Linked DNA regions of Homo sapiens: regions 1 and 2 are each reported to be linked to region 3. The links are microRNA targets in miRTarBase. Many come from high-throughput screens and were not tested one by one. Region 3 holds a microRNA gene; each other region holds the end of a gene's coding sequence.
What was found. The annotated mature microRNA hsa-miR-1267 reads CCUGUUGAAGUGUAAUCCCCA and lies in region 3 at 1,952-1,972, shown strand. An mRNA with a match to its seed (bases 2 to 7 or 8) in the 3' UTR can be bound and repressed. Matches are read on the target gene's strand: a 7mer-m8 pairs with bases 2 to 8, a 7mer-A1 pairs with bases 2 to 7 and ends in A, and an 8mer does both.

Region 1 (4,223 bases), not on the chromosome of region 3:
TGGCCAGTAAGTGCTTCTACTTGTTGATGTTTAGCAAATAAAGGACATTCACTTTTCAAAATGAAATAGCTGTGGTTTAAAAGGCTTTTAGGGTTAATACTGAGATTTGCAATTGAAAGAGGCTAAGTCTAGAGTAATAGAACCTTTTTTTCCTTCCACTAAAGGGTGTCATTCGTGTTCCTGCTCCTTGCCAGTACGCCCACAAGCTGGCTTTTCTTGTTGGCCAGAGTATTCACAGAGAGCCAAATCTGTCACTGTCAAACCGCCTTTACTACCTCTAACCTGCAGAAGACGATGCAGCCGCTTTTCTTTTTGAAATGACTTTGGGATTTTTTTAAGCTTTTATTTACTTTTTTTTTAACTGTTATCTTTCTGGATGAAACTTGGGAAGGGGATTAGGAGATCTAGCATTTTATTTCTAGCATTGCTATTCACCGGCTTCCTTATTTTATACGTAAAAATTAAGATTTTATATTTTATCTTCTTGTTTCTCATAGATATTTTGTGAGCATTTTTTTGTTTATTTTGAAGAAATGTGGATAAGATACTTGGTAGTATAAAACAGACTCTCTGAGAGTATTTGAAATGTGTTTGGAGATTTACTTAAACGTACTTTCAGGAGTGAGCAAGTCCTACTTATAAACCTATATTAACTTTATTTTTGAGATACCTGTTTTGAATTTAAAGGAGATAAGAGGCGTAAAGTAGGATGCTCACTACAACCATAGGTGGGGTTTCAGCTCATATCTTAAAGATAAAAGGTACTATTATATAACCTATACACAAGATACAGGAGAAAATATGCTTGATTTTTATTTGGCAGGGGGGCTAGGTTGTATGGGAGTAAAAAAAACATTGAAAATTTTTAAATTGTCCAAAGAAACATTTTAAGACTCTTTAACAAAAAAGGCCATGAGTAAATCTCTATATTAACATTACTATTTATTTTGTTTTGGAACTGGGACATGATTCTATTTGTTATAAAATAAAATTGATGTGATTGTCACCTTATTTGAATAACTGTAATTCTTGTTTTACTGAAAGTATGTGCGTTTTCTTTTCATTTAATTTTTAAAAGTGCATACAATTCCATTCATAAAAGCTAAATTAGCCTGACCAACATGGTGAAACCCCATCTCTACTAAAAATACAAAATTAGCCAGATGTGGTGCCAGGAGGCTGAGGCAGGAGAATCACTTGAACCTGAGAGGCGGAGGTTGCAGTGAGCAGAGATCACGCCACTGCACTCCAGCCTGGGCAACAGAGTGAGACTCCGTCTCAAAAAAAAAAAAAAAAAAAAAAAAAAAAAAAAAAAAAAAAAAGCTCAATTAGTGTCTCTTACGAACTCTAATGTCAGAGTAAAATTTTTTAAGGAAATGCTGCCACCTCCAATATTTGTAGTATAAGAACGGGTATCCACAGCTTATAAGGAAGCACAGACTAAGAAGTCTGTGGTGTTGTGAAGTTGGTAATTGTAGTTTTTTATATCTACATATTTATAGGAATTCTCAGGAACGTTTGCAAAGAGAAGGCTTAAAATTAATGAATTATTGTAAATCCCGGGAACACCTTTAAACATTGCTTACAAATGTGATGAGTGTAAGCTTTAATGACAATACACAAGTCCCTGGAACTGTAATTTAAACTAACGCAGATCACTCAAGTCATTTGTCTTACCTTTGTGGCACACGGTCTCATTCTGAATTTAGCCTCATTAACATATTATGAATGAAAACCATTTTATTTTCCTTTTAGTTCTTAGAGCTAATAATTGTTGTTAACATTGTTCTGGGCAAGCAGCCCAGGTTCCTTAACCTGTTCGATTTCTAAGCATGAGAAGACAAGAAACACAGAACAGTGTGACCTTCAAAAGGAGGCCAGAGACAAACATTTCAATGGTAGAAGTTGCTTAAGGTTGTCCTAGCATTAAGGAATATAAGGAAGTCTAATCATACGACTGGAAAATATTAATTTATTTATGGATTTTGGTGGCTAGTCAGTTAGTTAAGTCATGAAAAGCTCATTCTTAGCAGGTCTCAGCTCTGCCTCAAAGTGAAAGTTGAATTTAATGTCTTTAGAACCGTGAAAAATTGGTAAATGTGATAATTGTGGAAAAGTTGCAGGTGTCCAGAGACCCCACTATATCAAGAAAGACTTAGTTGAAAGGGACAGAAAACTGGCTGAAGTTATTTTAAGCCAAAAAAGGGTATTGCTTGGTTTTGTCATCATCCTAGGTAACACTTCCCAAATTTACTAATCTGTTAGACATCACCTGGTTGGGTTTGTGATAACACAGACTGGGTTCCAAACTGTACCTAGGAATCGGGACTCTCAGGGGAGAGGCCAGGTGAACAGTCTATTAAACAAGTCCCAGGTGATTTGCCAGGGACTTTTGGCAAATGCTAGTTGAAAGGGGTCTCCTTAACATCGTCTTGGTTATGCCTCTGCTGTGGTTTTCATCAGACAAACCTGTTGCATGCGGCGACAGAGACTAGGTTGATGTCTGAGCCACACCGAGTACACGGAGCACTGTCAGAGAATTCACTGCCGCACTCACAAAGAACAAAGCAAAGACTCCGTGAAATCCCAATTTCTCCTTTCACGTGGGATGTGCGTATCTGAGTGGGATGTCCAAAAGCTTTAGTGTTAAACACACTGACCTCAGGCTGTCCCTTCCCAAAGCTTCGTCTGACCAGTCTACCTGGTGGTTCCTGAAGGAACCCCAGGGATTTGGTGGGTGGTTCCCCAAAAGTGCATGCCTGTAGGAAGTCTGTCCACTCTTTTCTGGGTACATTTTCCTTCAAAATTCAAAAATGTGACACTCATTGAAGCATTCTATTTAGCAATTTTACACGCATTCCCTAAGTCCTACAGGAGTTTTTTGGAGTAATCTCCTGAACCTGCTGCTTACACACAGTGACGGCTCTGGCTCTCTCCTCAGAGTCAAATAGAAAGTATTTTCAACAGCAGTTTCATTCTGATACTATGATACGAGTCTTCAGATATTTCGTACATTTCTAAGTAAAAGCTTAAAGTTTGTGTAATTGGTATTGTCATTCAGATACAAGATTTCAAAAGCTAGGTTTAATTTTCTTTACCTTCATTATTACTACCCAATGATTTTAAAAATCCATTGTGTACAATAGAGAAACTGTAAAATTTTCAAGAGTAGTCAGGAGGGAGTCCCTGCACTTGGAGTAAGATGACTCTTCTCTCTAGGCCACCATTCAAAGGAGGCTCCATGGCCTCTACACTCTGAGTTAAGCTGCCCTTCAAGCACCCTGTGCTGCCAGAACTCAAGTGGGCACCTAGAACTCTGCACTGCGGAGTCCAGCGCTCTGCCCTCGTCCATCGCAGCCTTCCCACTCTCATGCCTGGGAACCCCACGACCAGTGGCATGCCCCATCCCTGGGCTCTTCCCACAAGCCCAAAGCTCCAGGTGATCCCTCGTATTTCAGGCTCATCTCTGAGGAGCTCTTTGCAGTCTCTTTTTTGACACCATCCCCTGCTCCTCAACTTTTCCTGTGTCCTCTGGAGCTCATTCTCAACAGCCTCTTAGGGGCGGTTTCTTTACATCTCCCTTTAACAAACTCGGCTTTCTCCCGGGTCACTCACAGTGCTGCTGTTGTCTCTCCTACACTTCTCGTCTGCCAAGGTCTGGAGGGTGAGGTAGGTGTCCCTCTTGCTCCTCACTGATATTTCCAGACACCCCGACCCCCGCAAAAAAGAAACCACTCGGCTTTGAATCTACTTTGATCAGATCATGTCAGCCGCTCCCCCTCCCTTTGCCACTTTATGCTCCCCGAGCTCCGATTCCTCCTTGCAGATGGTAGCTCCTGGCTTGCTCACATTGTCCTGTGGTGCTTTCCTTCTAATTCTTGGCTAAAACACACCGGTGAAGTCCAGCTTTTTGCCTACTTGCCTGTTCCTTTGCAAATAAACACGGCTGGAGAAAAGCACGCAACCCTGTGTAATTGTTGTATTTCAATTCATGATCACAAGCAGGTATTTAATGCTGTCAATACATGTATGTCTAGCCATTGGCTCCACAGCTCTCTGATGTTTTTCATACCTTGTCTCCTTACACCACCACCACCACCACCTCCATCCGCATTCTCAACTACTGTCTATTTTGCTAAAAATCCAGGCAGAGCTTCACAAGCTCCCACCTGAACCGCGTTTGCTCTGCAGCCCGGTGTTGTGGCGGCACGCACGGTCTGTGC
Region 2 (4,211 bases), not on the chromosome of region 3:
ATGTTTGTAGACATAATGATATTATTTGGGATAATATGTAATATTACATGTATATTACTTGGAATAATATGCAGTATCATATTAAAACATACAATATTATTTGGCGAAAGATATACAGGAAACAAGATTCTCTATGGGTTGGTAATTGTTAAAACTGAGTAATAGGAACACCAAGGTCATTACACAATTCTATTTTTATATATGCTTGAAATTTTTCATAATAAAGAGATAAAGAAAACAGCAACAAGAAAAGTGAACTACGGGCAACTCATAAAAGAAGAAATAGCAACAACCAACATGAAAAAGAAATAAAAAATAATTTTACTTTAGAAGAAATCTTAAAAATGCAAGTTTCTTAAAAGGTGAGGTTTCATTTTTCACGTATCACGTGGCCAAAACATTGAAAGATTAATGATATCCCTGGTAGCAAGGGAATGCAAAAACTAGCTTTCTTGTGTGCTCCAAACACTAGTAGACTAAATTGGCTCCAGTTTTCTGGAAAGCATTTGGCAATATGTAACAAAAGTACATGGGGAAAGGAGCTAGAGTGCCAGGGCCAGGCTGCCAAAGTCAGATTGCAGTCACACCACTCACTGGTGGCAGGACCCAAAACAAGTTTCTTAGCTGCTGTGTACCTCAATTCCTAGCCCATGAAATGCATGTACTATAATAGTGGCATCCATCTCAAGGGCTGCTGTGAGGCTAAATCATAATATTGGTACCAAACTTGGACCAGTGCCTGGCATATGGTGCTGGCTTTCATTATTATGTTGGCCCAGCAACCTCACTTCTAAGAATTTATTTTAAGGAAATCTTAATCAAGTGCACAAAGACACATATACACATTTTTTTAATCACTTCATGATTTATAAAATGCAAAAAGTAGAAATGTCTGGTTAAAAAAACTTTTGTAATCTTTGCCTGGAATACGAGGTGGCCATTATATATAACTGTCTTATATTTATACGTACTGACATGTACATGTGTACTGATATAAAGACATTTGTAATCTGTTTTCCAGGAGAAAATCAAGCTAGAGAAGAATATAGTTGAACCCTAGGAAGGAGTTTTTTTTTTCACCAGTGCATGTACATCTAGATGTTAACAATAATTGACTGAATTTGTGGGTTATATTCTTTTTGATTATCTGTATTTTCTAATTTTTCTGTATCAACCTTATCATTTGTCTAATTTTTAAATGATCTGTTACATACGTTCCACAGTTCTGGCAAATCTTGTGCTGGTTAATTTTAGTTCAATTTAATGAGAGCAAGAGATACCTGGACAGCTGTGAAGCATTACTTCTGAGTAGGTCTGAGAAGGTGCTTCCAGAAGAGATTAGCATTTGAATCAGTAAACTGAGTGAGGAAAATCTGCCCTCTCCCATTGTGGGGGACACCATCCAATCTGCTGCCAGCCTATATAGAAAGGCTTTCTCTCTGGAGTTGGGACACCCAGCTTCTGTCCTTGGATGTCAGAACTCCAGGTTCTCAGGCCCCAGGACCTGCACCAACAGTCCCAGGTTCTCCGGCTTTCGGATTTAGACTGAGCCACTCTACCAGCTTCCTTCATTCTCCAGTTTGCAGACAGCCTATGCCGTGATCACATCAGCTAATTCCCTTAATAAATCCCCTGTCATTTATTAGGGAAACTGGCTAATAAATACCCATAAGTATCTATCTATCCATATATCCTACTAGTTCTGTTTCTATTGAGACCTAATACAACTTACTAAAGAATTTTAAAATATATTTGAAAATGGGAAGGGGTGAACACAGCATAGAAACACCAAAGTAATACGTTAGTCAAACCCTCCAAAGTAGATAGAAAAACCCATTTGGAAACATATAACGTAATGATGAACATTCAAGAACAGAGACATTCTCATTGATAATCATCACCAGTGTGTGCACACAAGTCCAAACACATTTACTGTTTACATTTGCATTCCCCCAAAAGTGGAGCTAGAAACAAGGACTTGGGTGCAGATTAATTTACCTCAGAGGTGCTCATAAGAGAAAGAAGTAAGGGAGTGAGAAAAATGAAACAGAAAAGAGGAAGGCCGATGAACTATGCATTAATAATAGTAACTGCATACTAGTGAGAACTAGCACTCAATCCCACAAGGGACTCTGAGAAACTGTGCAGAATAAAACTCAGAGGTGCCCCACAGAAGCACAGGAAGCCTGGAGCAATTACTCATCAACTCCCATCCCATCAAGATTGTGGGCTGATCTGGTAGCATCAGCTCTCCAGCTCTCCTGAGCTTCCTCATTGAGCAGCTTCCTTTGTACGACAACACCCCCAGCCTGCCCCCTCCCCCAGCTACCCTACTCCACCACCAGACCCCTTTTGCTCCCTGCAGTGTGTTTCCTCCATCACCTTCCTACGAGAACTTCAAGGCCTCTCCAGGTGTCAGGACCACCCAAAGGTCAAAGGAAGTCTGGGTGAGTTGGAGGTGGTAATAGATGAAACAAGATTGACCTTGAGTTGAGCTGATAATATTTGAAGCCCAGTGATGAGCACATGGGTTCATCACACTATTCCCTTTACTCATATATGTGTTTGAAACTTTCCATAACAAAAAGTTAAAAATAGATCTTTGCTGTGTCAGGGATGGAGGTTCTTTGCTAGGTCTCCCTTTCAGGAAAAAAAAAAAAAAATGCCACTCAACCAGGAGAAATGAAATTGACTGACAGGTTCACTCCAAGGTTCACTCCAGCTTTCAAGTCAAGGTCTCATTCAGTCTGGGCCACCCCAGCCAATGGCCAAGTGCAGTGCAGGCATGAGAGCCTGGCCATTTCTGCACAATGGGGACTCCCAAGTGGGCAGTTCTTGCTCAGGAGCTCCCCACTGGGTCAGTGGAGACCTTGTCAACACATCAATGCCCTGAGTTCTCCTGGCTCCTCCAGCTTCCTTCTCTCTTTCTGTTCACAGTGGTCAGGTGTGCATTGCAGTCTGCGGCCTTTCCCCACTGGATCCTACCTCCACCTCCTTTTCTTTCCCAAGTGCAGCTCCTCAATAACTCCATCTTGGCAACCATGTCCCAAAAGACCTAAACTGACACAATTAAGATGCAGTTGCTTCCTTCCCTCCCAACCCCCTGAAAGCTCCAAAAATAATGAAATACATACCAGAGTTAAAAACATTGTACTATATTTAAATGTTTGCATATAATATATTAATGTTTTTCACACTAAAAATATACAATGGCTATGTATAAAACCTGATTTTGGAAATAATATCAAAAATTACACGTGTGGTCCTTTGGGGATACAAGGTCCAGCCAAGTGGCCATCCTCCCTTCCCACCCATGAGTAGGCCTGCCACATATCACAACCCTGGGAAACTCTCCAGGATCACCCAGGCTGGGATAGATGGCCTCTCATATGCTCCCCATAACACCCTGTTCTCTGTCACTAGATTACTACCTTGTGCTGGCACTGGCTGTAAACATTCTGCCCCAGCCTCTGCCTGCACCCTAACTCAGTAGTGAGAGGCTAGAGAGCCTGGCGCAGAGTAGGTAGGCACTCAGTAAATAATTTTGGATCAATCACTGAATGACTGACTGAGGCATATGTCCCCAAAAGGACCCCAGATAGGAACCATCTCCACAGTGTTCCTGCAGTTTTATAAAAGGCTTGGGAAAAGAGAGTTAGTGACTCTTTTCAGTCTTGGGGGGATGTGGAGGTAGAGGAAGAAAACTACCTGGAGGTTCTATTTTAACCCTTTCTCAAGCCTGGGGACCTAGGGGCTCCTAGTCAGGCACCTGTGGCCATCTACAGCAGGGCCCCTCACAGGTCAGGAGGGATGAGATCATATCCATTCCCTGCACTGCTTCTCTCCAAGAGGATGATCTCTTGGTTGTTTGTGAAGACAAGAGGCCCAGCAGCCTCTTCTGTTGAAGTGGACCTGAGCTGGCCCCAGCCAGGCTAACCCTCTAGCCAGCTAGCTTCTGGGGTGAATCACCAGGCAGGGACCCTGGGTTGGCCAGAGCTCTGTGGACCAGTGCCAAACTTCTCTGGGAGCTTTGAGCGAGACAAGGGCTTGGGTTTCTCTCTCTGGTCCAGGTCCAGAGGAAGATCTTCCAAGGAGGAGATCTCCAAGTCACTCTCATCTTCAGAAAGCTGCAGGGGGTAAAGGGGAGAAGAAAATGCATTTTGATAAGGGAGGAGGGTGGCTGAGAGCTAAGCACATTGCAGGATGGGAAT
Region 3 (4,245 bases):
AATATGTAAAACAGAGAAAAAAGAAAGGGGCAAAACTGAGCCTCATTAAAAGTTATGGTTATAACTCTCTTTTCGTGGGGATATTAATTTTAGTAGAATGAGTTAAATAAAAGTTTAAGTCAAAAAGAGAGGCAACAGCTGCCTCCAGTCAAAGTGTCTGGTTTCTAAATGATGTTTTAAATTTCCAGCTTAGCATGTATTCTTAATTTTTATATCATTTTTAATATGTTAATGGCTACTGTTTTTAGGTTGTTTTCTTAACAGTTCTGCAACTACCTTTAAGATGTTTTTTGAAGTCTAGGTGGCAATATTTTGTCTTCAGTTAATATAATTGCAATATTACGTTAGAAACTAGCACAAAATTATATTCCTGAATAATCTCTAAATTGCTAACTTTTCAGGGATTTATATTTTCTGAAAATTAACATTCTTGAGAATTTCATTAATGTCCCAGGCAAATCACATAAATGGACCAAACACATGAGACAGAAAAATTAAAGTTGAAATGAGGTCTATAAGAGATTCTCAAATATTTGAAATACCTCAAGTCAAAAGATATGAGTATATAAAAACTTCATGTAATATAATTTGATTAATTTTCCAGTAGTTTATGGAGTATGATTTTGGACTATACCACACTGTAAGCCTTAGGTTTTGTAATAACCTGAACTCTTGATATTTAAGAAGATAAATTTCATGTTTGTTGATGAGGAAGCACACACCACTAGAATGAACGCTTATTGGAAAAGCATTGTAACACTGAGAAAACACTAGCAATGAATGATTTTTCTTCATAGAGAAAGGAAGCAGCAAAACAGTCCATAATGAGAGCTCAGCCAAGGGAAACAAAAATCATTGAAATTTCTTAATAGATTCTTTAATACTGATTATTAGATAGAAGCATGTTTTACACTGTGGGAATCCATAAGATTTCAAAGAAAAAGATGCTGTTTTACTTTAAAATGTTGACCTTGAAAGGCTGTAGCTTTTTAAACTCTACTTTTGTTCACTTTCTTTCTCTTTCATTTTGTTCTTGGTTGTCTGCAAGAAACTTGGAGGAGAACCTAGCACATCAAAGGATTTAGTATACAAAAGGGTAGCTTGTAAGTCAGTTAAGAAACAAAGCATTTTCTATTAAATGCTTCTAGGATAACTCACTATTTGAGAGAAAATTTTCAAGTTAGGTAAGTATGCAAATTCAGCTGCGTTATGAACTTGATTGTGAAAAAGCCATGTTAGTCATCTAGAAAACAAATACGTAAATAGAAGATTGCAAAATGGCAGAGAAGTTTATAAGCATAAAATTAATTTTTAAAAATTCTAAGGGGAGTATCAGTAGATAATACTTCACATGACACAAAACTTTGGCATATCTAACACCATCATAAAAAAGATGCAAATGAGAAGCTGGAAAAATTACTTGCAACACGTATTCCAGTCAAACAACAACAAAAGAAGATGAGCATACTGAGATAAAAGTGGAAAAAAATACAGACAGACAACTCATAAAATGAAAAAAATACAAACATTTAATGTGAGTTTAACTAAAATGTACTGGTTTTGATGTTGAATAAACTGGGAAAATTAATAAGATAATATTGATGATTAGTGTCACTGATTATATTAGACCATTCTTGCATTGCTATAAAGGAATACCTGTGATTGCATAATTTATAAAACAAAGAGGTTTAATTGGCTCATGATTCTTCAGGCTTTATAGGACCCATGGTTCTGGCATCTGCTCGGCTTCTGGGGAGTCCTCAGGAGCTTACAATCATGGTGAAAGGTGAAGAAGGAACAGTCTTTGTCACGTGACCAGAGCCAGAACAAAAGAGAGAGAGTTGGGGGTAAGGTGCCATACACTCAGAAGAAGAGCTCACTCATCACCAAGAGGATGGCCCAAGCTATTCATGAGGGATCTGCCTCCGTGATCCAAATACCTCCCAAATCTCCTGTTGAAGTGTAATCCCCACCTCCAGCATTGGGGATTACATTTCAACATGAGATTTGGATGAGGACAAATATCCGGACTCCATCAGTGGTCAAGAACTTTTTATTTCTGGAGAGCTATGTTAAAATATATGTTAAAAGTCCATCCTCTTTAGTTCTGTAATTCCTAATATAGGAATGCATCCTAATAAAATATCTCAGATGTATATATATATATATATGTGAATGACAATGTTCAGCAGAGTTCTTTTTTAGGGTACAAAGACTATCCCTTTAACAGTTTTTACATAACTAAAATGTTTCCACTAAAAATCACAATAAAAATCGTCAGTGTTCTTTTCACATTTCAGGCAATCCTGCTGGTTTTCATATTATTTTTAAAACTTTATAAGGAGAATGGTGAAAATAGTTCATATATAACTTAGATGCTTGTTCTTTCTATATTGTCAGCTGCTTTTCACAAATGATTAGCCTCAGCTCTGGACAGATTTCAGCTTACATCAATATGATGTAAGTGATACTATGTTTTCTCTATAGCTGTGGTGATTTGCAATATTATTTTTGCCTCCTATTTGTCATGTAGTACCTGCTGGGCTGCCTCAACAGATAGTATTTGTACAATGGCATTTTTGTGTGGAATGAGTCCATCTTCTGCATACATCCACATGTTATGAATATACTAAAATGATCACAGGTCATACATAAAAATCTTGTCATTTAAAAAAAATCTTACAAATATTAAATTTAGAGGAATGTCTTAGATTTTGCTTCAGTCTATATGGATATACTTCATTCATTCAGCAAGTAATTTGCTGAGCACTTACTATGTATGATGTTTTCATGGCTCTGGGGATATAGTAGATGATCAAGTAGCTTAAAAGTATCCATGCTAGTGGTGGATATAGGTAGTAAATAGGAAACAAATATAAAAATAATTATGGATTGGGATATATGCTATGAAGTAAACAAAGGCAGACTATCTTGCTAGGATGGAGGTTTTGTCTTTGGACAGAGCTTTTAGGCCTCCTTAAGTAGATGACTGAGCTATAAAGCATAAGACTGAGCCTGCCTCATTAATAGGCAGGAGAGAGTGTCCCAGGGTGGAGAGAGAACAAGGTAAAGGTGCCCAGGTGGGGATTTGAGGGTTGGAGCTAAGGGAGCCCATATTGCTGAATAAGAGTGAGCTGTGGAAAGAAGGCATGAGTTAGCTATAGAACCCTTGCTTCTTATTCTTACTCTTGGGTATTAACAGTCATCTTCCTCTTGAAAGCTGAGAATAGCAGTTTAGGCAGATTGTGAGTTTGGCTTTGGTTCTTTATGGAAAGATACCTTGGAGTCCCATGGCCACTAGATGAAGGGATGTCAAGCATTGTAACTAGCCAACTGCATCCCTACCATGGATAGTTTCCAACATTCTGTTGCTCTTAGAAAGTCCTGAGACATCATCCTTTCCTTCAGGTGATGCCCGTTCCTCTCTCACATGGCAGTCAGAGCTTACGGAAGATCTAAAAAAAGGAAAAAGATGTAATTAATTCATCACATCTTCCAATCATCACACACACATTGCAATGGGAGCCAAGCTGGTGAATGGTTGGCTACTGTCCTGCGGGGCCATCTTGGAAGAGCTGGAAGTCAGCCTTGCTGGCCTTTTATCTGGAAGTCCAGATTAGACCACTGAATTGCACACATCTAGGACATATAGTGTGAATATTGAGGGTTGTATGAAAAGTCAAAAGCAGAAAGTTTGAGGAACATCTAAGATTACCAAATAATTTGCTGTTTCATTAATGTACTTTGCTTGCTTAAATCTCCGTTTTCAAATTCCCTTTCTGCCATCTGGGGCATTCTCTTTCCTGACTGCCTACCCAATTGCTACTCATCTTTTTTATCTGAAGGCCTGGATCGGTGAAGTGATTCTGAAAGTCATACAACTTGTTAATACCAGAGCTATGGTCTCGTTTCTCTGCTCTTGAATAATTATTCACTATGCAGGTATTCACCCATTCCTTCACTTGCTGAGAGTCAGCCAGCCATATGCTAAGCACTGAGAGAACTAACATGGTTAAGACAAAGTCTCCAGCATTAGGCTTCTCTCTCTCTGGTGGGAAGATCTTGTTAAGCAAATGAAATAGAACATAAATGAATGGATAAAGCTCTGGTCAGGGTGCCGTGGGAAAACAGAGGTGAGACTGAGTAACACTGTAGAAAAGGTCCAAAATTCATACTTTTATTGGAAAATAAGCAGGGTTAGCCAGGAAGAGGAACACGTTTCATGGGCAGAGGCCATGTACCTAA

Region 1: the mRNA of PIWIL1 is a reported target of hsa-miR-1267. Seed matches in the 3' UTR shown: 7mer-A1 at 1,259-1,265.
Region 2: the mRNA of DZIP1L is a reported target of hsa-miR-1267. Seed matches in the 3' UTR shown: 8mer at 3,898-3,905.

What each region holds. Positions count from the first base shown.
Region 1 is chr12:130,371,318-130,375,540 of GRCh38, forward strand. PIWIL1 (piwi like RNA-mediated gene silencing 1) reads left to right here. Exons shown (of 21, transcript NM_004764.5): 20 at 1-6; 21 at 165-1,320. The coding sequence ends at 281. Among named protein-coding and RNA genes, the nearest start is that of PIWIL1, 36 kb to the left of the region's middle.
Region 2 is chr3:138,058,851-138,063,061 of GRCh38, forward strand. It overlaps DZIP1L (DAZ interacting zinc finger protein 1 like), which reads right to left. Exons shown (of 16, transcript NM_173543.3): 16 at 3,140-4,127. The coding sequence ends at 3,966. Among named protein-coding and RNA genes, the nearest start is that of CLDN18, 51 kb to the left of the region's middle.
Region 3 is chr13:107,528,944-107,533,188 of GRCh38, reverse strand. It overlaps MIR1267 (microRNA 1267), which reads left to right and starts at 1,941; the gene lies at 1,941-2,018. All of the region lies in intron 1 of NALF1 (NALCN channel auxiliary factor 1), which reads left to right. LOC112268110 (a long non-coding RNA gene) reads left to right here. Exons shown (of 3, transcript XR_002957493.2): 1 at 1-4,245.